Homo sapiens: one gene and its partners. The protein of the gene in region 3 purifies or fractionates together with the protein of the main gene of each other region. This does not show direct contact. Each region holds a gene or a part of one and is shown on either strand. Other genes may lie near its edges.

Evidence for each region.
Region 1: the proteins of PODXL (region 3) and LGALS8 purify together in Homo sapiens (affinity purification with mass spectrometry; 3 studies listed by BioGRID and IntAct, with this or other methods). This does not show direct contact.
Region 2: the proteins of PODXL (region 3) and HSPA12A purify together in Homo sapiens (co-immunoprecipitation; 3 studies listed by BioGRID and IntAct, with this or other methods). This does not show direct contact.
Region 4: the proteins of PODXL (region 3) and SPAG9 purify together in Homo sapiens (co-immunoprecipitation; 3 studies listed by BioGRID and IntAct, with this or other methods). This does not show direct contact.

The regions. Positions count from the first base shown.
Region 1 is NC_000001.11:236,526,969-236,533,990, reverse strand, and holds part of LGALS8 (galectin-8), read right to left. Parts: intron 1-7,022.
Region 2 is NC_000010.11:116,739,549-116,747,315, forward strand, and holds the start of HSPA12A (heat shock 70 kDa protein 12A), read right to left. Parts: upstream 3,019-7,767; 5' UTR 2,922-3,018; coding exon 2,882-2,921; intron 1-2,881. UniProt on the Homo sapiens protein: Adapter protein for SORL1, but not SORT1. Delays SORL1 internalization and affects SORL1 subcellular localization.
Region 3 is NC_000007.14:131,553,613-131,561,051, forward strand, and holds the start of PODXL (podocalyxin isoform 1 precursor), read right to left. Parts: upstream 3,017-7,439; 5' UTR 2,748-3,016; coding exon 2,648-2,747; intron 1-2,647. UniProt on the Homo sapiens protein: Involved in the regulation of both adhesion and cell morphology and cancer progression. Functions as an anti-adhesive molecule that maintains an open filtration pathway between neighboring foot processes in the podocyte by charge repulsion.
Region 4 is NC_000017.11:50,984,847-50,991,868, forward strand, and holds part of SPAG9 (C-Jun-amino-terminal kinase-interacting protein 4), read right to left. Parts: intron 5,823-7,022; coding exon 5,604-5,822; intron 5,027-5,603; coding exon 4,831-5,026; intron 2,392-4,830; coding exon 2,266-2,391; intron 933-2,265; coding exon 852-932; intron 145-851; coding exon 77-144; intron 1-76. UniProt on the Homo sapiens protein: The JNK-interacting protein (JIP) group of scaffold proteins selectively mediates JNK signaling by aggregating specific components of the MAPK cascade to form a functional JNK signaling module.

The DNA of each region.
Region 1 (7,022 bases), on a different chromosome or scaffold from region 3:
GGCAGCTACATCCGGGGTCAGGGGCAGCTATATCGAGGGTCAGAGGGAGCTGCATCCAGGGTCAGAGGGAGCTACATCTGGGGTCAGAGACAGCAGTGGCATTGGTAGAGTAGCAGAGACACAGTACCATCTGTGTCCAGTGGTGACAACAGATGCCTCTTCATGGGAACCGTCCTACAGTATGCTTGTGTATCTGTGGCTACCTATTCTCCAAGCCTGGTTCTTCATCCTGCTAGAGATTCTGAGAACTCTGCACTATCATTTAGCAAATTCCTTTTCTGCTTAAAGAGTTGGCTTCTGTTGCTTGTAACTACAAACCCTGACCAATTCAACATCTTTAAAAAAAAAAAAAATGGGGGTCAGGCGCAGTGGCTAACACCTGTAATCCCAGCATTTTGGGAGGCGAAGGTGGGCAGATCACTTGAGGTTGGGAGTTGAAGACCAGCCTGACCAACGTGGAGAAACCCCATCTCTACTAAAAATACAAAATTAGCCGGGCATGGTGGCACATGACTGTAATCCCAGCTACTCAGGAGGCTGAGGCAGGAGAATCACTTGAACCCAGGAGGCGGAGGTTGCAATGAGCCGAGATCGGGCCATTGCACTCCAGCCTGGGCAACAAGCAAAATTCAGTCTCAAAGAAAAAAAAAAGGGTGGGGGAGCAGTAAAGAAGAGTCAAAGAAATGCTTCAGGAAAATGGGATAAGGAATTCTAACTGAGGTAGCCAAAGACAGTTTATGAAGAAGATATGATTTCAGTTGCCACTTCAGGTAGAAATGGCAGTTTACAAAAGCAGAGAGGCAGGAAAAGACAAGACCCATCTTCTCTCAGCACGCAGTCAGGGAGTAGTTAAAGAAAGGTACAGCCAGGGTCAGATTTTAGAGTGACATACGAAAGAAGTGTTTAGGAACAACAGTCCAGTGGGGGTGAAATAAGCCAGAGGTCAGGAGGTCATCTGGGTGACTGACTGCTGCCATAAGCCTGGCGTGAAACGATAAGGACACATTCCAGGTCAGTGGCAATGGCCCTGGAAGAGCAGAGAAGTCCAAGAGATGTTTCAAAGGAAACTGTCTACATAAGGCCACTAAATACATGACAAAGCTGGGGAGAAAACAGGTTTTTTGTTTTTTGTTTTTTGTTTTTCTTGAGATGGAGTTTCACTTTTGTTGCCCAGGCTGGAGTGCAATGGCGTGATCTCGGCTTACTGCAATCTCCGCCTCCCGGGTTCAAGCGATTCTCCTGCCTCAGCCTCCTGAATAGCTGGGATTACAGGTGCCTGCCACCACGCCTGGCTAATTTTTTTGTATTTTTCGTAGAGATGGGGTTTTACCAAGTTGGCCAGGCTGGTCTCGAACTCCTGACCTCAGGTGATCCACCCACCTCGGCCTCCCAAAGTACTGGGATTACAGGTGTGAGCCACCGCGCCTGGCCTGGGAGACAGGTTTCAGGAGGAAGATGACGAGTTTAGTTTGTAATACTTGGTGTGAAGCGTTGGCAGAGCATCTGAGAGCAAATCTGCTAAGACTTGGAGACTCAGAACCACACGCTAGGTGAATGGCCAGAGCACACATTTAAAAGTCAGGGTAAAGATCATTTGTAAAGATATCAAAGTAGATAAAGAAATCGAAAAGCAGGACAGGTCAGGCAGCAAAGGCTCGGTGGTTTCTAAAATTAGGAGGTATGCAGAAAAGAATTAACATTGGCAGGCCTGACTGCTGTCCTGGAAAGGCCTCCTTACGAGGCAGGCCCCTGGCTGGTGTCTGGGAACTTGGGATTTGGGAAGGGCACCCACCAACCTAACTGGTAACGGGGATTTCCTGTACCTGAACTGTTCATGCAAATAATATGGTTATGCTAAACACCTGCTTTCCTTCTGGGGGACCAGAATTTTTTGATATGTGTGAGGGTGCTTATGTGACCAGCCTCCAGTAAAAACCCTAGGCACTGAGGCTCTGATGAGCTTCCCTGGCAGTCCACATTTCACAAGTGTTGTCACAACTCCTTGCTGGAGGATGTAAGCACATCCTATGTGACTCCACTGGGAGGCGACCTTGGAACTTGCACTGGATTTCCCCTGGAATTCACCCCAGGTGCCTTTCCGTTTGCAATTTTGCTCTATATCCTTTCACCGCAATAAATCATAGGCACAAGTACAACTCTATGCTGGTGAGTCATCAAAACTGGGTGTGACCTTGGGGACCTCAACATGGGGTGAGAAGAGAAAGGAGAGAGAAGAATCAGTCAGGCCAGGGCAATAATATCAAGGGAGTCAATGGATTTATAAATTTCAGTAAGAGGAAAACTGTCAATATCTTTAACATTGAAGAAGCTAAGAAGGATCCAAGCAAATAAAGATAATAAAATGGGGCCGGGCGCGGTGGCTCACACCTGTAATCCCAGCACTTTGGGAGGCTGAGATGGGTGGATCACAAGGTCAGGAGATCGAGACCATCCTGGCTAACATGGTGAAACCCCGTCTCTACTAAAAATACAAAAAAATTAGCCAGGCGTGGGTGGCGGGCGCCTGTAGTCCCAGCTACTCCGGAGGCTGAGGCAGGAGAATGGTGTGAACCCGGGAGGCGGAGCTTGCAGTAAGCCAAGATCATGCCACTGCACTCCAGCCTGGGCGACAGAGCAAGACTCTGTCTCAAAAATAAATGAATAAATAAATAAAATAAATAAGTAAAGAAAATGGATCATACCCTCTGACCTAGTGATTCCACTTTTACAGATTTATCCTACAGAAATACGTAGCACAGGCACACCAAGATGCACACACAAGGATGTACACTATAGCACCGGATATAATCGCAAAAAGACACAGCCCTTCACAAGGGACTGCTTACATAAGTTTTACTGCTAATTATGCAGCTGTTAAAATAAATGAGGAAGTTCTAAATAAAATGACATTTCCAAAATAGGTCAAATAGAAAAAGCAGGGTAGAAAACAGTTTATACGGTAAAATGCATGCACGTAAAGAGACAGGATATATAAAAGGTGATATACACAACACACACACTTTTGGATATTCATAAGTATCTCAGGAAGGATATATTTCTAAAAACCAGTAAAAAGTGATTGCCCTTGGGGAGTAAAACTAAGTACCAGGGTAGAAGGAAAATGCATGTTTCACTGAAACTCTTAAATACTGTTTGAATTTTAAAAAAATGATTTGCACATATTATCTTTAAATTTTTTTAAAAGGAAAAGCCACTGGTTTGGACATAAATGTAGTTTAAAATTTTGAAGACAGACTATCTTCCAACTATTGGGTGCTAGGAAACAAGGGAGGAGGCAAAAGTTAAACAGCAGAAGGATCCTGCTGCAGAAAACTGCAAGAGGAAAGCTGGTTTGGGAAGGAAGATGCAAGTTTGGTTTTGAACTCCTAGTCTTGAAGGGCTGGCTGAGCAACTGAGAGTTGGGGGTTCACATTAGGTGAAAGGTTGGAACTGGATACATATGGAAAAAAAAATCTATGAGTGATCGGTAAAGACATAAAAGAAAGAGACATTAAAGACAAAATTTCACTAGTAAAACCAAAAAAGAAAAGAGAGTGAAAAATCAGAGGGCAGAGCCTTAGTGAGGAAATCCACTCTCAGTCAGGAAGGCAGGCAGCAAAAAGAGAAGAAAAACAGCACAAAGGCTAGAAGGTATCTCACAGGTTACAAAAGAAAGACTTGACTGTGTTGTGTTTTAAGACTAAATTGTAAGGTAAAAAAGGAGTACTTAGAATACTAAGCAGAAAAGGATAAACATGGAAGCAAGGTTCCTAAGAAAACTGGGTACCAGGTAGGATTTATGTTGACAAGCAACTTATTAACTTGGAGTAACAACCAATTCTGTTTCATTTCTAAATGATTTCTTAACCAGCTAGCATTTAATCATATCTTAAGAACTCTATAAACAATAGCAAAATTAAATATATAGGTAGATAATGAACTGCCAAACAAGAAATTTCACTGGCAGCATTCCTGGTATGAAGTAAAGATACTGTCTTCCAAATTATTCATTCAAATTCAATAGAAAGAAAAGTAAGTGGCCAGCCACGGTGGTTCACGCCTATAATCCTAGCACTTTGGGAGGCCGAGGCGGGCGGATTGCCTGAGCTCAGGAGTTCGAGACCAGGCTGGCCAACATGGTGAAACCCCGTCTCTACTAAAATACAAAAGAACAATTAGCGGGGCGTGGCGGTGTGCGCCTGTAGTCCCAGCTACTCGGGAGGCTGAGGCAGGAGAATTGCTAGAACCCAGGAGGCAAAGGTGGCAGTGAGCCGAGATTGCACCACTGCACTCCAGCATGGGCAATAGAGCAAGCCTCCATCTCTTAAAAAAAAAAAAAAAAAGAGAAGAAAGAAAAAAAAAAAAAAACAGAAAAGGAAGCCTAACTTTTTTTTTCTTTTTTTTTTTTTGAGATGAAGTATCACTCTGTCGCCCAGGATGCAGTGCAGTTGTGCAATCTTGGCTCATTACAACCTCCACCTCCCGGGTTCAAGTGATTCTCCTGCCTCAACCTCCCATGTAGCTGGGATTACAGGCCACCGCCACCATGCCCGGCTAATTTTTGTATTTTTAGTAGAGACGGGGTTTCACTGTGTTAGTCAGGCTGGTCTCGAACTCCTGACCTCAAGTGATCCTCTCGCCTCGGCTTCCCAAAGTGCTGGGATTACAGGCATGAGCCGCAGCACCCGGACTCTGACTTTTTATTTTTATTTTTGAACATGGTTCTTGCTCTGTCACCCAGAATGAAGCACAGTGTCAAACTCACAGCTCACTGCAGCCTCAACCTCCTGGGCTCAAGCAATCCTCCCACCTCACTCTTCCTCATAGCTGGGACTACAGACATGCGCCACAATCCCCAGTTAATTTTTGTATTTTTATAGAGAGACAAGGTCTCACTATGTTGCTCAAGCTGGTCTTGAACTCCTGGGCTCAAGTGATCCACTAGCCTTGGCCTCCCACAGTGCTGGAATTACAGGCATGAGCCTCTGGACCCAGCCTTAGAGCCTGACTTTTTTAAGTCTTGGAATTCTATCAGTTGAACTAGTCAAAGAAATATACTAAATAGGGAAAAAAATACATAGGCCAGTTGCAATATTTACTTCATCTTTTCCAAGAAAACTTAATGTGGACAGTTGGTCTAACACCAATGTGGACCAAAATATTAGAAATAGGCCAGGCATGGTGGCTCATGCCTGTAATCCCAACACTTTGGGAGGCCGAGGCGGGAGGAGTGCTTGACCAGACTGAGAAACATGGCAAAACTCTGTCTTTACCAAAAAAAATACAAAAATTAGCCAGGCATGGTGGTGCATGCCTGTAGTCCCAGCTATTTACAAGGCTGAGCCCAGGAGGTGGAGGTTGCAGTGGGGTAAGACTGCACCACTCCACTCCAGCCTGGATGACAGAGCGAGCCTCTGTCTTAAAAAAAAAAAAAAAAAAAAAAATTGGAAACATTAATGAAATAAAAATTAAAAAGTGGCGGTGTGTTTATAATGCCTAATAAAGAATACAACAGACAATAAATATATTTACTTATTGAACCTATCAGTAACAAAACAACCATGATTCAAGAAAACAGGTTTTGTGTGTGGGGGGGTTTTTTTTTTTTTGAGATGGAGTCTCGCTCTGTCACCCAGGCTGGAGTGCAGTGGCACCATCTCGGCTCACTGCAACCTCCGCCTCCCAGGTTCAAGTGATTCTCTTGCCTCAGCCTCCCGAGTAGCTGGGATTACAGGAGGCTGCCATCACGCCTGGCTAATTTTTGTATTTTTAAGTAGAGACGGAGTTTCGCCATCTTGGCCAGGCTGGTCTTGAACTCCTGACCTCGTGATCCACCTGCCTCGGCCTCCCAAAGTGCTGGGATTACAGGTGTGAGCCACCATGCCCAGCTGAAAACCGTTTTCCTAAGTCTAGCTTATAAAATATACTAATTGATTATCTTTAAATAACTAAGTTGGCCAGGCATGGTGCCTCACGCCTGTAATCCCAGCACTTTTGGAGGTCAAGGTGGGCACATCACCTGAGGTCAGGAGTTTGAGACTAGGCTGGCCAACACTGTGAAACCCCATATCTACTAAAAACACAAAAATTAGCCGGGCATGGTAGCACGTGCCTGCAGTCCCAGCTACTCAGGAGGCTGAGGCACTAGAATTGCTTGAACCCGGGAGGCAGAAATTGCAGTAAGCCGAGATTGCATCATTTCACTCCAGCCTGGGTGACCAGAGGGAAACTATATCTCAAAAAATTAAAAAAAAAAAATTAATTGAATAAATAAAATAAGTTATTTACAGCCTTTTTTTTTGGAACATTGAAAGGGCAACTAGCTACAAATGAGAGAAATTCAGTGCAATACAGGCCCTTTATACTATAAATATTTTACAGCAGTGAAACGTAAAGAGAGCGCAAAATGTTTTTGCCATTCAGTTCAGTCTACCTCTAACCTTTCCGACTCTTTTGTGAGAACTGATAATAAAACAGAGAATTTTGAAAAGAAAGAAAAAAAAGCTATTTGCCAAAAATATCTCCCTTGGAAATGCATTATCCTCAGAACAGCATCCAGCCCATGCCACAAGACTGAAGGCATTTTCTGCTCTAGCGCAGAACTACTTCTCCAGATCCCCTTCCTCAAGAAATGAAGTCTACTTATTTTTGTTCCACCTCAATAGTTGAGAGTACTGACCCCAGAAACTACAGGAATCAGCAGTATGCTAGAATCAAGATATGCACGAATTTTACCTATAAAATTATCTTCTTTTCTGTGTGAAGGGCAGAAATGAACAGTGTAACCTTTATCCATTCTCCCAGCTTGAGCCAAGATGATACTTCAGACACCCGTGGCAGGCAGCCTAGTTTGTTGTTGTTGTTGTTGTTAAGATCTTTGCAGGAAATCAGTTTACAACCTTGGGATGTTTTTAACTCTAACATGCGCAAAGTCATCTTAAATGTCTCACAAGCTTCCGCTTCAGGAAGTCATCTTTTTTAAACTTACTACCACTGAAAGGCTATTTCTCCTAAAACTGACT
Region 2 (7,767 bases), on a different chromosome or scaffold from region 3:
CTAGCCCTGACTTGGTCACCATAGGAGCCATCCCTGTCCGAACCACTCTGTCCACCCCCAATTCATCTCACCCTTCTAGGGCTCCATGTGTCAACCCACTCAGGTCATGCGGGAGGGGGCAGGATTGAAGGTCATCTCAAATTTTGCTGTCCAACACCCAGACCCTCAAGTGTGGCCCTTCAGATTTTGTAAATTAAGTAATTTAAACATCTTATTAAGAAAATTTGCAAACATACACAAAGTAAGCAGAATAGTAATGAACCGCCGCTCCCCATCACCCAACTACCACATTTTGCCATTCTTGTTTCATTGGCACGCACCTCTGCCCACTCCCCACCCCACCCCAACTGCACTTGTTGGAGAAGATTTCATGGCCAGCCTTTCTGACACCACCCCCCAACACCACCTACCCACCAGCAAACCCCTCCCCAACCCAGGACTGCCACTGCTCACAAATTCCAACAGTGTGATATTTGTGGCACCCATCCTTTTGTACCAAAAACATTCTGGAAATCCTTCCCAGGAAGCACAACCATTTTTTTATGTCCTTAATAGAGTGGTAACCACTGCACACATGCATAAGGGCTGTATGCACAGGTTGGTGCCCTGGAATCAGATGGCCTGGGTCCCAAACAACACTTCCCAGATGTGTGACCTTGGATAGGTCACTCAACCTGTGTTTGGATTTCCCACCCAGGAAGGGGAGAATGCTGGTAACAGGTTTGTTGTGAGCCTTTAAAACAATAAAATAATGCACGCTCTTTTCCCAGCAATGAGGAAACCTTAGAAATAAGTGTAGGGGCCAGGGGCAAGCCAACTCTGCTCCTATGCAATACTATTCACATCCTCCATTTTACAGATAAAGGGAGAGGTGCCCAGAGGCACAGTGAGCTGCCAGGGACAGCCCGCTCTTCAGGTTGGTCTCTGTCCTAAGTCCATGCACCTGGAATTCTCACTGGCCACCTTGAGCTGGAGATGACTGGAAGTGAAGAAACAAATACTCCAGAACAAACGCAGAAGAGCGGTGGCAGGTGGCTCGGCACACCAGGTATGGGTGTCCCCATCCTGGACAGGATTTCTCCCAGCACCGTGTGTGTGTGTGTGTGTGTGTGTGTGTGTGTGTGTGTCTGTGTGTGTGTGTGTGTGTGCGTGTGTGTGTGTGTTAGGATAGGGGTGCTGAATTTGATTTACAAGACAAAACAGTGTTGGGAAAGGTGTGGGGAGTGGGTACACATTCCTGCCCACTTCTGATTTGACAAATCCTATGCCCAACCTTGTATTTGGTATCATCGCCCACCCTATCCCAGCATGAGAGGCAAGAAACTGGCTCAGTAATTCTCAGGCTTTAGCAATTCAACGCCCCTACTTATCGTCCTAAAAATTTTTTTATTTTCTGACTTAAAGGAAAAAAGTAAAAAAAAAAAAAAAAAAAAAAAAAAGAGTCAATCCAGTTGCTGAGTGATGTTCAGACAAAGACAGCTGCCAGTCCATTGCCTGCGTTCACCAGCTGAGGAAGAGTACAGGCGGGGACTGGGTGTGTGTTTGGGGACGGCCTGGGCTCTCCGCTGCCTCTCCCTGGAGTGAGCCCTGTCAGGATCCCCCACCCGCCACCCTGCACTCCCCCACCACTGCAGTGCCGCGTGGGGAGGCACCTCCCTGATCCGCAGGAACAATGGGCTGGGGTGGGGGCAGGTGCGGCTTGGAGTGCAGCAGAGGGTGGGGGCCGCAGGCCCGACAGCAAGACAGGGAACCCAGCGCAGATGGTGGCTGTGCTGCCACTGGACTCAGTTTCTCCAGCTTTTGGGGCCCCGCAGAGCCAAGCGCTCGTTTCGTGGCTGAATCTCCCTTGCGTCCCGGCATTTTAATATCATCCTCGCAGGCGGCTTGCCTGTCGCTCCCGGGAAAGATGCCTGGGCCGCGCTCCTCTCCCCGGCGGCCGCTCTCGCCGAGGCCCTGCAGGTCAGGGACGCGCGGCGCCTCCATGCGCCCAACTTTCCCCACTTGGGACCCACAGGAAGACTGGAATCCTGGCCAGCCGGGCCCTCCGTGGGAGAAGCCTTGATTTACAGCCCTGGGCTCCGAAACCTGCTCGTCCTCTTCCCGCAACCCCCTTCCCCGTCCTCTCCGGCTCCCCCACCCTTCGGAGCCCTAATCACGCTCCCCAAAGAAAGCGGCCCTAGCACATCTGCAAAATGCGAGCGTCTGTCCTCCGCACTGGGTGCCTCCCCCTGCCCCCCGCAAGGAAGGGACCATCGAACCCCCGCCGCTTCACCCTTCCCCAGCCCAGTGAGTCCCTGGGGATGGGCGGGGAGGTGGGTGAGAAGCCCTTCGGCCGCAGCTGCAGCCCCCACTCCTGGCTCGAGCGTCCGGCCGGGGTGGGATGGGGCGAGGGAACAGGTCCAAATCTCCGATTTCCCCCAGGCTCCCACTCCTGCCTCGCTGAGTCACGAAAATTACCCGCTGGGGCCACCCGGCCACCCGGCGGCGGGCCCTTTACCCAGCCAGCGCCGGCCTCCGCAGCCCATCGCGCGGGGGCTGCACACGCGGGGCGGTCCTCACCCGCACGCGCGACCAGCCCCGCAGGAGGCGCCACCCGAGGCAGGGACCAACCAGGCGCCTCAGCGGGGGCTGCAGTCCCCGCCGCGGAGTCCGCACCCTGGCGGGGCGCAGAACATGTGACCCGCGGGCCGTCTCCGGTCCACCGGACCCCGGCCCCCGGCCCCGCTGCTGCTGACCCCGGCCCCGCCCGCCAGAACTGGATGCAGCGCGGGCGTCCCCACTTTTCCACGGCGCGCGAGGGGGTGCGGAGCGTTGGGCCAAGCGCGCCTCCTCCCTCCCTGCCCCGCCAGCCGCGGCCGCAGGACCCGCAGCCTGCGCTCACCTCGGGGCCCGTCGCTGCCGCCGGCCTCCTTGTCCGCCATGGTCGCGCAGCCCCGGACCGCGAGGGGAGCCTCCAGCGCAGCGCCCGTGCCCGTGCGGGTCTCTGTCCGCGTCCGCGGCGGCGCTCGGGCCGTGTCTGAGCCGCCGGGCAGCGGGAGCGCTGCTCTGACGCGGCAGCCGCCGCAGCCACGGCTCCTCCCCGGGCCCCGCCCCGGCCCGCCCGGCGCCCCGCCCCTCCGAGCTCGGGCCGGCCGGGAAAGGTCGGGGAAGGCGGGCGCGGGGAACTGCCTGGCTCCGGAGCTGCGCTCCCCGCCCGCCCAGAGCGGCCCGCCGAGGCCCGGCCTCTCCTCTCCCGGCTTCGGGACCGAGCGGTCGCCCCGCAGTCGACCGCGGCGGGGGTAGTGGCGCGCCCGGGGCTGCGCTGCGGGAGCGGATTTCAGGCCCTCGGGGCCCCGCGGCGCGTCCCCTCTTTGGAAGTCACCGAATGGCCAGGCCTGGAGCCCTTCAGCAAGCCCAGCGCGCCCGGCGCTCTCCCGAGGACGCCCGCGCCAGTCCCCACCAGCTTCTGTCTGTCCCCCAGGGTCCCAGGGGAGCGGCCCTGGGCCGGCGCAAAGGCGGGCTGGGTGGACCCCGGCGCGGGCAGGACCCAGGCCGCAGACCAAGGACCTGCGCGGGGGCCGAGCCCGGGGCACCGCCTCCAGGCCGCCTGCGGGACTCCATGGCAACTCCGGACCCAGGGAGGTGCTTGCCCCGGAGGCTGAGTCGCGCCTTCCATATATGGGATCCAGCTGGGCCCTCCTTAGAAGTCTGAGAATAACGATATTAATAATGCAAGGCTTCAGTTGTGAATGATTCATACTCCCTGTCCCCAGCTCCTCCACACACACGCGCCGCTGGCACCTGTTTGGGCCTGGCCAGGCACCCCCTGGGTCCGCGGTGTCACCACCCTGCCTTGGCAAACGAGGGCAGTAATAGGAATCCGAGGAGCACCGTCACTGGGTCGTTTCCGGGTGCCTGGCACTGTGCTACCTGCCTGGTGCTTTACCTCTATCTCCTTTCCTCCCCATAACTAACATTTTGCAGATAAGGAAGCTGAGGATCGGCAGGGTTACAATATCACACCCAGCAGGTGAGTCGCGGAGCTGGGATTCCCACCCAGCTGTAACCACCAGCATCCCTCACTTCCAGAGATGGGTGGCATTTCCCAAAGATCACCTAGGGGAGGCTTCATCGTACAATCCCGTTCTGGATGACGGAGTGGGCAGAGAGCTGCTGCGAGAGCGTTATGGATGACGGAATGGGCAGAGAGCTGCTGCGAGAGCCTGGAGACCAGAAGGTGATGGCAGAGTGACAAGTTCAAAACACAAAACTTGTCTTCTGTCTGCCTGCATTAAAAATCCCAAATGGACAGTTCCTGGCTGTGCATGAAACCACAGTCAAGTTATTTAACCTATCTGAGCCTCAATATTCTCATCTGCGAAATGGGTATAACAGGAGAACCCACTTCATAAAACTGAAGATTAGATAGACTATGCATGTAACATGCTTAGCTTGGGATCTAGCACATGGTAAAAATCATTAAGTCACTGATGGCCCCCGAGGGCCCTTCCTGCCTACGTGCCTGCGACAGCCTGCCCACAGCTCCCCCGCCCTCCTGTCTCACCCCTTCAGTCCATGCTTTGTGATCTGGTCTGTCCCCACCCTACTCCAGCTCCAGCTACAGCCGCTCTGATTCTTCAATCCCTCTCACCCACCCCTGCTTCTCTTATGCTGGTATTTCAAAGACATGAAAATGTGCTTGATGCCTGGATCACCCGTCCTCTCATTTCACCACCACCAGCAACCTAAGAACTTCTCCTTCTCATCATGGACTGCCCAACTCCAGGAAGGCTCCCCTGCATACCCATGCTGGCCAGGGGGGCCCTCCTCAGTGTCCTCAAGGCACTCGTTCCTCCCCATCAGACCAGGGCATCAGGACATTGGCCTTGACAGCCTGTCAGAAGCAGCAGAAACCCGTAGCCCCTGCACATCTGCCTCCTGCTGTGGAAGGGCCTTGGGCGCCACGTGCCCTCATGGGACTCCCAGCCACAGTGACATGAGGGTGCGTGAGAAGGATGGGAGGTGACATGCAGGCCCCAGTGCTGGGGGCAGAGAGCAGAACACTTTTGATTTGCAGGGGAGCATGAAAGGCAGCGCACACTCTGCCTGGGATTTGCCCTCACGGCCTTCATGCTCATCACACTAATTACAACGCGCCCTGCTGAGCACACCATCCAGCCCGCCAGCGAGGGGCTGTTGTGGTCTCACCTAGTTCTCATGGTGGCCCTTGCGGTTTTGCAGGAGAGGAAAAGGAAGCATTCAAAGGCTGAGGCACCTGTTCAGGCATCCTCTGGCCATCAGCAGCAAGGCTGGGGTTCAAGGCTCAGCACGCCACATCAAGGAAGGGTTCCCACCTTCCTCCCTGGAGTCTTCTTCCCCAATAGCAGCCAGAGAGAGAGCATGTCATTCTCCTGCTACCAGGTCCTACACAAATTGGCCTCCTGATGCCTCAGTGACCTCAGCTCCTTCCACTCTCCCATTCCCCCCAAAGCCCAAACACACACAGGCCCCACCTGGGGGGTCACTCCCCCGGACACATCCTTCAAGAGAATCAATCACGTGGCTTGCTCCTCCCAGAACACTCTATCTAAAACTGCTGCCTCGCCCCCACTGGGAAGTAAGTCCCAGGAGAGCAAGATCGTGGACTGTGTTGCCAGTTCTGCATCTCTGTGTCTAGAACAGCGCCTGGTACATGGCAGGCACTTAATAAATCCTTGATGCTTGACTGGCTGAATCAGTAAGTGAAGCGGGAACACAGCCCAGCACACAGACATTCTGCTGACCCCCAGGGCTCATGCCTTTCCACAGCCCCAGCTGTCTCAGGGCACGCCCAGACTCCTGGGAGGTTGCTCTGTACCAAGTTCCCTCAAGCTCCCCTCCAAAGACTCCTCCTCACAGTGCTCTCTGTGGGTACACTGCAGCACCCTCTATACCATCTCTTCTCCACCCTCCACACCCTCCACAGGCTGTAGACTGTGGTAGCTGGTGGAGAGAATGTTACACATCTCGGTTGGATACTCAAGTCCTAAAAAGTGGCCCAGCCCAGAGCCAAGTGACCACCTTCTAGTTCCCTTCCTGCTGGTCACTCCAGCTTCAAGGGCCTGCCCTCAGGTCCCCAAAGAGCCAGTGCCTCCACTGGAAGCCGATTCTCCTCTAGTTTTGCCAGGTAACCAACCCTGTCTCTTCCTACAGGCCTCAGCTTGGATGGCACTTCCTCCAGGACACCACCTAGCCCTCCAAGATCACATGAGGCCCCTCCTCTCTCCTCTGTGCCCAACCCCCCATCACTCCTATCTTAGCACTTATCACAACAACTCCAAGGTCAGTAGTATTGTTAACCCCATTGTACAGATGACCAAACTGAGATACAGAAAGGTCACTGAGCTCAGAAGCTGCAGTGCTGAGACTAGACCTCTGAGACCAGAACTCAGGTCTCTCCAGCTTCAGGTCACCCACCTCCCCCTCTAGCTGCCAGCTCTCCAAAGTGGGACCAGCCATGTCCACATTTAGAGCCCCCAGACCCTAGGATGGTGCCTGGCGCAGAGAGCAAAACATTGATGGAAAACAGCCTCCTCAGCTTCAGGCCTTTCTCATCCTCTCCGGGATCCCGTTCACCCACAGCCCCACACACGCTTCCCTGCCAACAGACTCCCTCTCTGCTCTTCAGCCCCCAAACAAACCCCCACCACATCCATTCATGCAAATAGAAGTCAGAGTCCAGAGGCAGGCCCAGCTAACTGCACCAGACAGCCAGGGCACTCTGTCACCTGCTATAACTACCAACTGTGGAAAGGGCTGGACATGATGCACAGCATGGGTAGGGGAGGCAGCTGAGTCCTCTGGCCCCCAGCTCAGAAGAAACTGAGGATAATTGTTGATGGACCAGATGCTAAGGGCAGTGAGCCCTGGGGGATGCATCAGGACCAAGAATGAGAAAAGTACAACAGGAGGAAGCAGAGAGCATGGGGTCAGCTGGACCAGGGCTCAAGTGGGCTCAGCTGCTCCCTGCCCACCTCAGGGGACCTGGGACATACCTCTCTGGGTCTGTTTCCTCACCTGTCAAAAGGGCCCAGTAATGATAGGTATCATAATTATAAGAGATCATATATGTAAAACATTCCATTTAGAGTCAGCCTATATATGCCACTGTTAATATGACTTATTTAATTTATATATTTGAACACAAAAATGCCATTTCCTTGTATATTATAAATTACAGAATGGATCCAGGCAAGATTTTCTTGGCTGATAAAGACACACAGAAGATATGAGTAGCTTTTTCCATTTTAATTTTTCTTTTATGTTTTTGTTAAGCTTAAGAAACACTGATATGAGTTCATATCTGAACTTTGACATAGGACACTGCCCGTCAAAGCTGCTTTGGACTTTAGGATATGCCAGCGGAACGTTGTCCATGAACTGAATATCATAAAAGAGACTAATTCATAACAGGACCAAGATTCAGATTTGCTAAAGCAACATAAAAACTTGCAGAGAAAACCTGGGCAAATGTCAGCCGCCTTGACCTCCAACTGTCAGTGCATTTTAAAAAGCCAGCCTTACAGCTGAATCATGGTGGCCAGTGTATACATCCTCCCCACCTCACTGGTCTTCCAGTCCATCTGGTGTGAATCGGTCTCTCCATTAACATTCCAAAACAACCTTCACATGTACAATGTGAGCTGCTGAGCCACTCTTTCAGGCAAAAATTCAAGGGCCAGAGGAAATTATTGCTCCAAATATCACCATCACTCAGGACTGCAATGTAAACTTTAGAAATGCCTTCTC
Region 3 (7,439 bases):
TTCAGGGAGGTCCACTATTTTGTCCATGGTCATGCACATCTCTCTGACCCAAAGTCTGAGTGTTTCCACCCCACCAAGCTGCCTTTCTGTTGCCCAGAATTCATCCATTGAACATCAGATTGAGAGTACTGAATCAGCTTGTCCTTTCAGTAGCTGAGGGAACACGGAACCCCAGATATCTTATCATGGTGGAACTAGAGGTCCCTTTGGTTCTTTTATTCTATCTCACAAATAACGAAACGGAGGCACGGAGATGTGACTTACCATTGTGGTTCTGCCAGATGGTTATCAAACCAAAAAGCACTGAAAGGGGGTCTGATGAATTGTCCAACCCTTAAGGTGAATGCTTTCTTTGCTGTAGGCTGCATAATCTGCCCATATATTGGAAGGTAAGCTGGGGGAGAGGGGCAGGGATGGACCTGTCTGGGGATAATTCCTTTGTTGCAGAGACTCGAGCTATAAATCTTTCTTGCTTTGAATCAAATCACAGGATTCCAGCAGATGGGGGGCAGTGTTTATGCTATTCCCGATGACAGCAGCCCAGGCGACCACACCTTCAGAAGGACAGGGATGGAGCTGGCCTTACTGAGTCCCTAGAGGGTGGTGTAGAATGCACCATAGCTACTGAACAGACCAATCTTGCCGCAACATGCCCCCCACAAGCCTTTTCTGGCCTCAATACATGCAAATCATCATCACCATCATGATCATCATCCTCTCCCCATCCCCCACTTAGCACTTTGCACTTTTCTAAGTGCTTCCCAACAGTGCTGCATACTATAATGCATACAGTGCTCAGATAGGCCAAGTTACTTGCTGGTTAGAGCAGGCACTGGGTTATGGTCATTTTTGTTTGCCACATACCAAACTTCTGCCATGTGCCAAACCCTGTGTTAGGCCAGAAGTGGTGCTTCATGGAAGAGACATGGTTTCTGGCAGTGCCCAGGTGCCAGGAAAAACAGTGCCATCCTTGAAGCCAGCAGTGAGCTGGAGTCAGAGCTTTGCCCACTGGTGACTTATGAACATTTCCTTTTAGGGCAGACAGGGAGGGTCTTGTCCCACAGTGCCTCCCACTCCTCAAAGGAAGGGTGGCTCAGCTTCCTTAAGCTCAGAAGCACTAGGGACTAACCCCTCTTTCCTGACACAGCCCAACGCCCTTCTGGGTGGTTCTAAGAGGCTTCCCAACAAAAGGTTCGTATGAAGGCCCACCCTGAAGTCCAGCTGTCCCCAGAGTAGGGCTAAGGAGCCACCATACTCTCGTGTCATCTCAACCCTGCATGTCGTGTGGCTCTTCAGTGATTGCCACTCTGAAAGCTGTTCTGACTGTTCCTCACACTGCAGCCCCTCTTCCAGGGACACACATTCTTCCCCCCGCCGGGACCTTCCCTTTCTAGTCAGGCTGGTGGAGTCTCCCGCCGGCCACAGGAGGATGCCCACGCCTGCCTGCTCCCTGAGTGCCAGCGCCTGCCCACTACCAAAGGTTTCCTGCGGTGCAGAGGAGAGACTGTACTGCCCTTCCATCTCCCCTGGCCCCTTAGAGTCCAGTCCCAAACTGCCGGCACCTGCTCACAGCAGAATCCCTACCCTGTCTGTGCTGTCCCCGCAGTCCTCCTGGCCCTAGGGTGATCACACCACCTCAGCTCTTCCTGCAGACATGTGCTCAGGTGGGCAAAAGAGAATGAGAAATGCACCTCTCCCGTGGGGCTGAGCTGACTCTGGCTGTTCCCTAGGGGCTTAAGAACACCTGTTCTGGTTGAGTTTGCAGCCATCGCCTGTCCCCCAAAAGGGAAAGAGTAACATTTCACCTTGAAAAGAAACAGGGAGGGGATGTTTCTGAGGTGCAGGTGTTTCATGAGAGACAGGTACATTTTCTAAGGTGTGTCTAAAATGCAGCCCAATCCTATTCTACGAGAGAGAAGTTCCCGTTTGAACAAGTTCCCGTTTGAACAAGAGGATTCGAGGGGGGTCTCACCATCGTAGCCACGCACTAAGAAGCGATTGTTTTAGGGACACGGAGGTAGGACCCCCACTCAGCCAGGTGACTCTGGGACTGTGGAAGGTCCACTTACGACTCTGTACCTGCCCCAGCACGGGCTCAAGGAGTTGAGCCTGCACACATTACTTAGAAAAAACCTCTGCAAACGGGTAAGTACATCGCCCGCGTGGGCCGTGGCTGGAGGCTTGTCACCTGCTTCAGGGACTTCCTCGGGAGCCTCTCGCCTGCCTCTTTGCCTGGAATTAACGAATACACACTACAGCCCCTCATTCCCTCCAACACGAAGGAAAGGTGTAATCAGATCCCGAGAGTCCCGCAGAAGCGTGGAGCCTCGCGGTGCGGTCTCCCTTTTCTTTCCCATGCAAACCCACTTAGCACCGGCGCGCCCCTGTTTGCCCGGGCAGAATCCACCGCCCACTCCTCCCGAGTGGAGAGTGGAGACGAATCTACGCCCAGGCCCTGCACCTGCCGCGCTGCGGAGTTTGGAGGGGGCGTGGATGGTGCAAGGTCAGGGCTCCGTGTGTGACCCCGGCGGTGATAGGGCTGCTCGGGGTCGGACCACGCGGCGCGCCGGGCTTCCCTGCAGCTCGGCCGGGCAGGGGGCACATGGGCACGGTGGGAGTCCCGGCGGAACCCAGGCCGGCCACTCACCATTCTGGGAGGGCGACGGCGACGGCGACGGCGACGACGGCAGCAGCGGCGGCGTTGACAACAGTAGCAGCAGCGCCGAGAGCGCCAGCGCGCAGCGCATCGTGTCGTCGCCTCTGGGCCGGGAGCAGGTGGCTGCGGTGCCGGCGGAGGATCCGCGCGTCCGGGCGGTAGGAGCGTGGGCGCCGCCCGGGGAGGCCTGTGGGTGGCTCCGGAGGCCAGGCTGTGGCCCGGGGCTCCCGAGTCGCGCTGCGGCGGCTCTTCCTCCCTGCCGCTGCAGCAGAGCCGGGCTGGGGCGCAGAGCCAGTGGCAGAGGAGCGGCGGCGGCGGCGGCTGCGTCCTGGGCGGCGTCTGCGCGGCTGCGGCCCCACTGGCGGCTGCGGCTACTCCTGGCCCGTCCCGTCAGCGCCGGCCCCCGCCCCCGCCCCCGCCCCTCCCCCTCCCCCAGGAGCCCGCCAGCGGCGGCGGCCGGGCCGGGCGGGGCCGGGGCCGGGGCTGGGCGGGCGCTGGGCCGTGAACAATGAGCAGAGGAGGAAACTCCGCCCTGGAGCGCGACGGGCGGGAGGGCCGGCGGCCTCCGCGCCTTGGGGGGCTGTGTGTGCGCGGGGGCCAGGGCGGGGGGCTCCTGCGGTGCAGCCGGGCCCCGTCCACAGGTGTCCCGAACAGGTGTGTCCCCCCGAGTGCTTCTAAGTGGGCCCGGCGGGATCCCCCAGCACACCGCCGGGGCCCTCGCACTACGAGCAAATCCGGAGCGGGCGGACCCCCAGCCTTGCGTGGTAACTGATAACCATTCACGGCCTCCCGGGCTGCTGCGCGTTCTGCAGCGACCCCGGAGAAGCTCATCTCCCACCTGCCAAGTGCAATTCACCTGCCTGTGGGGCCCCCATCCCGCACGGCTTCTGAGCGGGGTCTCTCTGCAGCTAGGTGTGCAGCGGGCAAGCTGGACTAATTCACTCCTTCACCTCTCCAAGGGTAGGTTCCTTACCTGTGAAATGGAGATGATGGTTAAAAAACAACAGCAACAACAATTTCAGGGATGAATGTGTGCCAGGCTTTACATATATTAATTCTTTTACTCTTCATGACAACCATATTTTTAGCCTCATTTTGCAGACAGGGCAATTGAGTCAAAAAGAGGTTAAGAAACTTCCTGAGGCCACATAACGGGTAAGTGGCAAACCTGCCTCTGAGAGAAGTTTGGAGAAATACCGTGCACCGTGCCTGGAATATAGTAATTGCTCTGCAAGGAGTGGTTATTACTCTTATTCCTGCTATATAAAGAACAGCTATAAAGATTAGGGCTTTTGGGTCAAAACAGGCTGGGGCTCAAAACCTAACTGTGCCAATCTATTAATTGTAAAACCCTAGGCAAGCTATTCTCAGTACCTCATTTCTTTTTATCTGTAAAATAGGGATAATAACACCTACCTCAGGGGGTTGTTGGGAAACTTAAATGTGATCTTACAAGATAATACTTAGCCTAGGGCCAGGAACACAAAAGTCTCAATGAATGAAGTAGTTCGCCCTCCAAGTGAGGATCAGAGATATTTGCACACTGGGGGTGGGAGTGGGTGTTGGAGAATTCCGTAAACTGAGTTTATCCGGTGAAAGAACAAAGAAGTTCCTTTCCCCTCCCCCGCTCCCCTCCTTTTTTCCACCCCCAAAGCTGCCTGGGAGACGCAGACCCCAGGCCCGCCTGAAGAGGAGGCACATCGGCGGAGCCGGGAAGCGGAGGGGGCGAGGGGTGATTAACCTTGGAACCCGGGTACGGCGTAAATTTGGCTCACGTGACTCCGGGGTTGCTAATCTGGAGTCTATCTGCCAGATGGGGCTGGGTGGAGGGGTTTTCTCCAGGATCTAGCCGCGTCCCGGGCACAGGGGACTCCGTGAGCCCCTCAAGTCGGCTGCAAGCAGGCGATGCCTGCAGGGCACTGCGTCCCTGGAGCCGCGAAGGAAGCGCTGGAGCCCTGGCTGGGGTTCCGTGGCAGCCGGCCTCAAGCTTGGGAAGGGCTGACGGGGTTGTTTTCATCAGGAAGTTTCTGCAGGATCGTTCTGGCCCCGTTTTCCACACCGCATATGGGAAAGACAGAGGGTGTTCCCTATGAATACTCTGGGATATTTGTGTGTGTGACTATCTTTGATGTTTTTTTAGTACTGTTCCCCTGATATCATGTCAACAAAAGGCTTGTTTCTCTTCTGAAACCAAGCAATATATATATATATTTTTTTTTACACTGGGATTTTAAAAAATGTGTATCGCACTCTGATTTAAACAGTGTTTTTGCACTCAATCATTCAATTTATCTAAAAACTCAGAAGCAATCATGTTAACTTTATAAAGAGAGAGCGTATATTTTGAAGCTTAGGGCATTTTAAATTCACATGATTTGGGATTGGTGCCATTACAAGATCATGCAAAATTAAAATGAGAGCAGACATCTGGGCTTAGAGAAGACATAGAAAAGTTACAATTGTGCTGGACTCTCCCCAGTATCCAACAGCCCCCCTCAACTTATGCACAACGTGGCTTTCTGGAATGAGGCTGGCTGGGTTTTGAGGTCACTGGTGGCCACTGAGATGAGCTACCCCCAGGTAACTGGCCTGTGCCTTTGGCCCCATTTAGCATTGTGCTCTAACTAGCAAGCTCGCCAGCCCAGAACACCTGAGCTTATATTTGAAACCCAAAGCACTTTATGGGTGCTGTTTTTGAAGCTTTTCATCAGGAAGTTTCTGCAGGATCATTCCTTCTGGGATTTGTTGCATTTTGGTTATTTGTATACATGCGTTAGCTCTCCTAGCAGACATTCAGCTTCTTTAACATGGCGTCTTTCTTATTCATCCTTTACTTACTCAGACCACCAAGAACAGCACATCACTTTTTTTTTTTTTTTTTTTTTTTTGAGACAGAGTCTTGCTCCTGTTGCCCAGGCTGCCTCCGCCTCCCAGGTTCAAGCAATTCTCCTGCCTCAGCCTCCTAAGTAGCTAGGATTACAGGCATCTGCCACCACACCCGGCTAATTTTGTATTTTTAGTAGAGACGGGGTTTCTCCATGTTGGTCAGGCTGGTCTCGAACTCCCGACCTCAGGTGATCTGCCCGCCTCGGCCTCCCAAAGTGCTGGGATTACTGGCGAGAGCCACCGCATTTTTATCAAGCAAATGGTTTTGCTGCCCCATGGGCACAGAAGCCAATACTATGAAGCACTAGCTTTGGAAAAAGCAGCGGCTTTATTTGCAAAACTGGTCAGCAAAGAGACAGGAGTGAATTCAAATCTGTCTCCCCAGCCAGGCACGGTGACTCATGCCTGTAATCCCACAACTTTGGGAGGCTGAGGTGGGCAGATCACCTGAAGTCAGGAGTTTGAGACCAGCCTGGCCAACATGGTGAAACCCCATCTCTACTAAAAATACAAAAATTAGCCAGGCTTGGTGGCATGCGTCTGTAATCCTAGCTACTCAGGAGGCTGAGGCAGGAGAATTGCTTGAACCTGGGAGGTGTAGGCTGCAGTGAGCTGAGATTGCACCACTGCACTGCAGCCTGGGCAACAGAGCAAGACTCCATCTCAAAAAAAAAAAAAAGAAAAAATGTCTCCCCAGTTTGAGGCCTGGGGTAAATTTATGGGATCAGAAGGCAATGAAAAGATTTAGGAATGTTGGCTTGGCAGAATCTGATTGGAGGGCTTTAAATTTGACCATTTACAGAAAGGTATGTTGAGGCGGACTTTTAGCCCCACATCTTCCAAGCCATTGTACGTCTGGCTTCTGAGAGAGTTCTGGCATTCGGATTCCCATCAAGTCTCTTAGTCTTTTTAGTTCCAAGGGAGAATTCATTGTTTTGGGGTTGTTGTTAGAGTTCCAACTATTTTCTATTGCTTATGCTGGAGCAACGTGACATTTTGTTATCAACAGAGCAAGCCCAGTTTGGGCCTTTCCCTCAGTTACAACATCATACATATAGATACAGATACAGATCTATAGATACAGATCTTGAATGCAAATATGAATGTCACCTGGAAGATATTACGCAGGAACCCATGGCACAAGGTTACACATTTTTCCATGGCCCCTGGCTGTCAATGTTAGGGGCCATAATTCTCTGCCCCAGGTGCAATTTGGTGATGTTGTTTACCTAAGTGCATCCTTATGTGCAGACTCAGTAAGTCCTCTTGACCCTCATTCTAAGTAATACTGATCCCCAGTCACAACATCTAGGGGTGAGACAAAGCGTCCGCTACCACATCCCCCAAGAAAAGATGAGTGCACACATGTATCCATCCTGGAGCCACAGCTCCTACACATAAGGAGCCAGGGATGCTCTTACCTGGGCTTTCTAATCACTGACCTCTGAGTTCCTTGTGGGTCGAAGCAGTGTTTAATTCATCTTGGAATCCAGTGCCCAGTATGGTGGTGTCTGACCCCAAACAGGTGCATGACATTCAAATGCTGCATAGATGAAGAAGTGGTTGGATTTTCTCTCCAAGGTTGGGTTACCCCTGACTGCCAAGTGGTGCGGTTCTATGAATATCAGCTGGGACTCAAGTTGGGCAGCTCACCCCAAAGTCATGCCTTTATGTATTATTATTCAATAATATCTACCCTAATAGGCAGAGTGTGCTAGGTTCGGTGCACTGTGCTGAGAATGCAACCCTGTACACAAACATGACTAACATGTAGTAGGGGCTGTAACACATGGCACGGGTGGGCATGTGGGAAGCGGAGAGCAGGATGGCTCAGCCCCACCCGGGGAGGTCAAGGAAGGCTCCAGAGGAGGGAACTGGGTTTTGGAGGAGTTGAAGG
Region 4 (7,022 bases), on a different chromosome or scaffold from region 3:
ACATAAACCAATCTACTTAAAAATGCTTTGCAAAGCAACAAATTAGTGTCCATGTTATACACACATCACCACTCACCCACTCCTCTGTGAAAGATTGCAAGGGTGCCGTCAGCCAGGGCTACTAACACGATTCCCTTCACGTGTCTGCAAACAGGAAAGGGGAGTTCAGAACTCTCCATTCAGGAATACAGAAGGGACCACATGCTACTGAACTAGTTCAAGGCCTCACAAAGGGCCAATCTGTGATGAGTTAAGGAGCTGACACCTGAATATAAATGAACACACCACTTTCTTCACTGTGGATGTCCTGCTATGAAAAAATGTCAGCTGAACTAAATAAACAGTATGAATGGTATCTCAGTTATTTCACTTTCTGGCCCAAGGTTCTCCTCTCATCACAGACAATCAACACAAACTCTAAAGACCAGAGACATGCACCTTGAGTGGAACCAACAGAGTCAGCCCTGTAGGCTCAGAGATAAACTGTCTGATTTTTTTACAGTGAACACATAGAAAAGAACTAGTAATCAATGCCCCAATCAACATATTTACAAGCCATAAAGAATATTCTAAAATAAACATAACTTAATAGGTATTGGTTATTTCCTGCAGTGCTAAATAAATCGCAGTATGGTGAGGACTCAATCAAGCAAGTTATCCTTTCTACTTCGTTTTCTATTATACAGTTTCATTCTCACTTAACTTCTCTAGTTCCATAAAAAGGGTTAAAAAAACAAACAAATTGGATACTAATTTAGTCGTGAAACATGTATTAGCTTTCAAAGTCTTAAAATCTAGTTTATACCAAAATGCATAGTTTTAACAAGAAGAATTTCCAAAATAAAACTTACACAATACTGAGAATCGAATCTTTAAGTTTAATGGAATGGAGACATTTCCTCCACTGGGCTACAGATGAATGGACATACAAACTGTAAGAACAAAGTCAACACTGGTAAGGCATAGAGAACATCAAGACATTGCATATATCTAACAATGATCGCGAAGTTCATTCAGAAGGAAAGAAGAGTAACATACAAATTTTAGGAAAAGGTGCTGCTGCTTTTGTGCAATGGTCAGAAAAGAAAAATGAGAGTGAGGGTAGGCCTAAGGTAAAGAAATAGGCTGCTGAGCAAAGAAAAACATATGAAGACTGAAAAGCAAGAACTAGTGCAATGCACAGTCAGGTTCACACACTTAGTCCTTGGGCAAAACTCTTTTTTTGAATTGCCTTACCTCTCTACTACACTGATCTATAACTTTTGGATGACAGAGTGGCCCACATAGGGAGTGGCAAACTATGGCCTACAGGCCAGATCCAGTCTGCCACCTGTTTTAATCCAGCCTGCAAGCTAAGAATACTTTTTACATTTTTAAAAGTGTGTGTGGGGGGGAAATCAAGGGTATTTTACGACAGGGGAGATTTATATGAAATTCAAACTACAATGCCCATAATGCTCTACTGGAAGAGAGTTACACTAAGTTTGCCAACTCTTCACTTTATAGTATTGGACTCATATGAAAAAGACATACTACAGGTTGAGTAACCCTTATTTGAAATGCTTGGGATTTCTGACTTTTTCAGATTTTAGAATGTTTACATCATACATAACAGTTGAGTATTCCTAATTCAAAAATCCAAAATGCTCCAATGAGCATTACCTGCCAGCATCATAACAGTGGTCAAAGAGTTTTAAATTTTGGATTAGAGATGCTCAACAGTAATCTTGCTTAACCTTTGTAAATGCACAATTTTGTAAAACTCTCCACACAACCGGAAAGTGAACAAACCATATAATATTAGTCATCATCATCTGACTTTGCAGATTGTGATTTGTTTTACCTATCTTAGTAAAAAATTCACTAAAAGTTGGGATTGGGCCTTCCTGCAGCCAAAATGTTGGTTTAATCCCTGTTTTCCTGCCCACATTCTAGCCTACATAAATTAAATATTCTCTGTCTTTGTGCTGTTCAGGATCTTCTATTTCTGGAGCACCTCGATTTTAAAATTTTACATACCTCTTCTTCCAAGAATATTATAGAAAGGGAACATTCTGTGACAAAGAAACATATGGCTTACTATTCAGAACCAGTGCAAGTCCAGTTTATGTGGTAGTTGCAACATAACATCAAATTGTGTGTATATATAAAATTCTTTGCATTAATCCACACTTTTTGTATTTGTTTACCATATTTTACTTATCTTCTGATTTCAAAAGCAAAAGTAAAACAACATATTCTAATGTTAAAAGCATTGACACCTACCAGCCATTTTGAGCTCCAAGCCACATAGTTGGTAAAAGACTACTCATTTTCTGGGCTTCTTCTCTCACCAAGTCTTGTTCATTTGGCAGTACTGATATTTGATCTTTATATGCATCTGAGTCATTGCTGGAAAGGGAGGGCAAAAGGAAAGAAATCTGAGTATACTTAACTATCGTTATAGTTTTCAGGGACTGAATCCTTCTATATTTAAGTTTGTTCATTTGTTTATTATTTATTTATTTTTTAGAGATAGGGTATCACTCTGTCACCCAGGCTGGAGTACAGTGGCACAATCAGGGCTCACTGCAGCCTTGACCTCTCAGGCTCAAGTGATCTTTCCACTTCAGCCTCCTGAATAACAGGGACTAGAGGCACACACACTATCACACCTGGCTTCAACTTTTAGTCAAAAAAAAAAAAAGAAACCACCAAAATTCCAGAAAAGCCAAAGTCAAAAGCTTACATCACATATTTCAACAATTGTACCAGAAATAACATTAACAAACTAGGAAGCCCAAGGAGCAGAAAAGATAATAAGACATGGTAATGAAATACAGCAGTTAATATTCAGACAATTACTATGGCTGTCTCTTATTTTGGGTTTTGTCATAGTTTCTTCTCAAGTGAGAGAGAAGGGAGGGATACACACATACAAATAGTAGGGAGAAATATAAAGAATGACCTAAAATAAATTAATAAACTGAAATATGTTTAATATTCTATCACAAAACCTTTCCTTTGAATTGTCAGGGCATATTTAGTAAAAGATATATAACCAGGCTATCAAATTCAAACATGACTTATTCTTAAATTAATAATTCAGGCCAGGTGCGGTGGCTCACGCCTATAATCCCAGCACTTTGGGAGGGTGAGGTGGGTGGATTTCTTGAGGCCAGGAGTTCAAGACCAGCCTAGCCAACATGATAAAACCCCATCTCTACTAAAAATACAAAAATTAGCTGGGTGTGGCAGCACATGCCTTCAATCCCAGCTACCTGGGAGGCTGAGGCAGGAGAATCGCTTGAACCTGGAAGGCGGAGGTTGCAGTGAGCTGAGATTGCACTGCTGCACTCCAGCCTGGGTGACAGGGTGAGATTCCATCTCCAAAAAAAAAAAAGAATTAAATATTAACCCATTTATGCCGGAGGTTGCAAATTTTTTTTGTAAAAAATCAGACCTTAGCGATGACCTTGAGCAGTAGGATATGAATAACTCCCACAAGCTTAGCATTCCAATAATGGACCACTAGGCATAAATGGGTTATTAATTAATCTTTCTTACTTTATACACTAAGAATATTAAACTTTAAAAAGGATCTAGTTTAAAGAGACTCTCATCTAGAGGGGATCTAGAAAAGGCAGGAAAGAAAATAAAATAATTCACTAAATGGGCCTAGATTAACCAACCCTTTAACGGAGGAGCCTAAAACAAACAGTTTTCTTTGGTTTGTTTGTTTTCTGAGACAGAGTCTTGTTCTGTTTCCCAGGCGGCAGTGCAGTGGTGATATCATGGCCCACTGTAGCCTCCAGCTCCCAGGGCTCAAGCAATCCTCCCACCTCAGCCTCCTGAGTAGCTGGGACCATAGGTGCACGCTACCACGCCCAGCGAATCATTAAGTTTTTTGTAGAGATGAGGGTCTCACTATGTTGCTCAGGTTGGTCTTGAACTCCTGGACTCAAGCAATCCTCCTGCTCAGACTCCCAAAGTGCTGGGATTATAGGCATGAGCCACTGGAACTATCTGAGTTGTTTTTTAATAAAATATTTGCATGAAAACTAAATTCAAAAAGGTCATCCACACCCATGTGGGAAACTTGTACAATGGCAGATTTAAACAATGGCCAATTTTGCTGATAACTGGAGTGAAAATTAGAGTAGGGGTGGGATTAAAATGACAAAGAATTACTTATAGAATGGAAGACAGTAAGTACAAAAAAAAAGAAAAAAAAACAGATCAGAGGAGAAAATGAACAGAAAGATTTTGACTAATATATAGTCACACACCTGGTAAAACCATTTTGGAAAATGATGGACAGAATATATGGTGGTGGTTCCACAAGATTATACTACTATATTTCTACAGTACCTTGTGCATGTTTACATACACAAATACTTACCGTTATGTTCCAATTATCTACAGTATTCAGTACAGTAACATGCTGTACAGGTTTCTAGCCTAGGAGCAATGGGCTATACCATATGGCCTAGGTGTGTGATAAGCCATACCATCTAGATTTGTGTAAATGCACTCTATGATGTTCACACAATGATGAAATCACCTAATGACACATTTCTCAGAACATATCCCCATTGTTGACTGATGCATGATTATACTTTTATAGATAAGATTTTTTTTTTAAATTGGAAGGTGTACAGAAGAAATGGGGGGGAATATCCAGCGAGAATGATGGAGCGGGAATACATGAAATTATCACAAGAATAGGTATCTTTTAATCCACCACAGTGACACTAATTAGTGGAAATCTTTTGACTGTTTGAGATTATTTTGGTTCCTTTTATTTGTGCACTTCACCCAGTTGCCTAAGTTGATGACCCATTATTATACCTCGACTGATACACTGGGGAGAGGTCTTCTGGGATCTGAACTCCCAAAGGATCTGTAAAGACATGCTCTGTGTAGACGCCAGTTTGGGAGATGTCCACTGTGTCTTCAGCTGACCCCGCATTCCCTTCTGTAGCTTCAGTTGCTTCTTCTGCTGTTGGAACATTTTCATCAACCTCACTATTTTCTGCTTCCATTTCTACAAAGTAAATAAAACACTATTCCAAGTCTGGGCTTTTCTCCTCCAATTATTTCCCCACACAAACCCCTGTTATAGAATTCCATTCCATCTACCCACTCCTTCACACTGTACCATGAAATTAAGAATTCTTCATTCCATTTAACAGTCATTACAGCATTTTTTTTTTTTTTGAGACAGAGTCTTGCTCTGTTGCCCAGGCTGGAGTGCGGCGGCGTGATCTTGGCTCACTGCAAGCTCCACCTCCCAGGTTCACGCCATTCTCCTGCCTCAGCCTCCCGAGTAGCTGGGACTACAGGCACCCGCCACCACGCCCGGTTAATTTTTTGTACTTTTTAGTACAGACAGGGTTTCACTGTGTTAGCCAGGATGGTCTTGATCTCCTGACCTCGTGATCCACCCGCCTTGGCCTCCCAGAGTGCTGGGATTACAGGCGTGAGCCACCACGCCCGGCCTACAGTATCTTCTTTCAAGTTCTTTCAACCTTGTTACTTAAGATCTAAATTAAGTCCATAATGAGGCATCTGAGTGTAGCCTTAGACTCTATACAGATGGCAGGTAAAGAGAATGGATATACCTGGTGGTTTATCCATCACTGGAGAAGCACCATTTGTACTAGGGGAAGTGGCAGCTCCCGTCACACCTTCTGCAGAACAACCAACCACTGTGATGCCTCCTAACAGGCTGTCTGTCTCTGCTGAGCTGTTGCTTGTCATACTTCCACATAAAGATGCTTTGTCTACCTGACCAGATTCTGAAAGATCTTCTCCTGCAGGGTAGTCTGTTTCTCGTGCACCTGAAAAATAAATCTTCTTGTAACAGCAAAGTAAACTTCTATAAATAACATTTTTTTTACTAAAACAATTACAGGTTTGAAATGAGAGTTATGCAGGTGAGATGTACAGGTAGTTGAATACAGGTAGCATTAAATTTACATAAACAAATCTTCACAATATGGGAAGGTAACTTAAAAAATTAAGAAAATACTTCTATTAACACAAGTGCAAATAAACATAAAAATGTCAGAAAATAAACTTTTTTTTTTTTTTTTTTGAGACAGAGTCTTACTCTGTCGCCCAGGCTGGAGTACAGTGGCATGATTCAGCTCACTGCAACCTCCGCCTCCTTGGCTTAAGTGATTCTCCTGCCTCAGCCTCCTGAGTAGCTGGGACTACCGGTGTGAGCCACCACGCCTGGCTAATTTTTGTATTTTTGGTAGAGACAGGGTTTCGGTATGTTGGTCAGGCTGGTCTTGAACTCCTGGCCTCAAGGGATCCACCAACCTCAGACAAGTCCTAGGATTACAGGTGCGAGCCACCACGCCTAGCCAGCTTCTGTTCTTAGTGAGCTCCTCAGCAGCCACAGGTTAAAAACAATCTATTATATCTGACAACATCAGCCAAAAAAAAATTCTTTTAAATCATCAAGACTACTGCTACTACTTGAAGTATAAGCTTCTATCCATTACTGTTAAAAATTAAATGCCCCAAGTATATAGGTTGATTAAGATATTAGTAAAACATTAAAAACTAAGCATTTATAATATAAAAATATTTACAATATAAAAATAAATCTCATTTTTTAATTTAGAAAATTGTTTTATTTATATCACACTAAAAACTTTTATTGCAGTAAAAATAATATATATATAAACAAAATTTGCCACTTTAACCATTTAAAAGTGTACAATTCAGTGGCACTAATATTTACAATATTGGCATTAATATTTATAACATTGTGTAGCCATCACCATTATTTTTTTTTTTTGGCGACAGAGTTTCACTCTTGTTGCCCAGGCTGGTGTGCAATGGTACAGTCTCGGCTCACTGCAACCTCTGCCTCCCAGGTTCAAGCAATTCTCCTGCCTCAGCCTCCCAAGTAGCTGCGATTACAAGCGCCTGCCACTGCACCTGGCTAATTTTTGTATTTTTAGTAGAAACGGGGTTTTACCATGTTGGCCAGGCTGGTCTCGAACTCCTGACCTCAGGTGATCCGC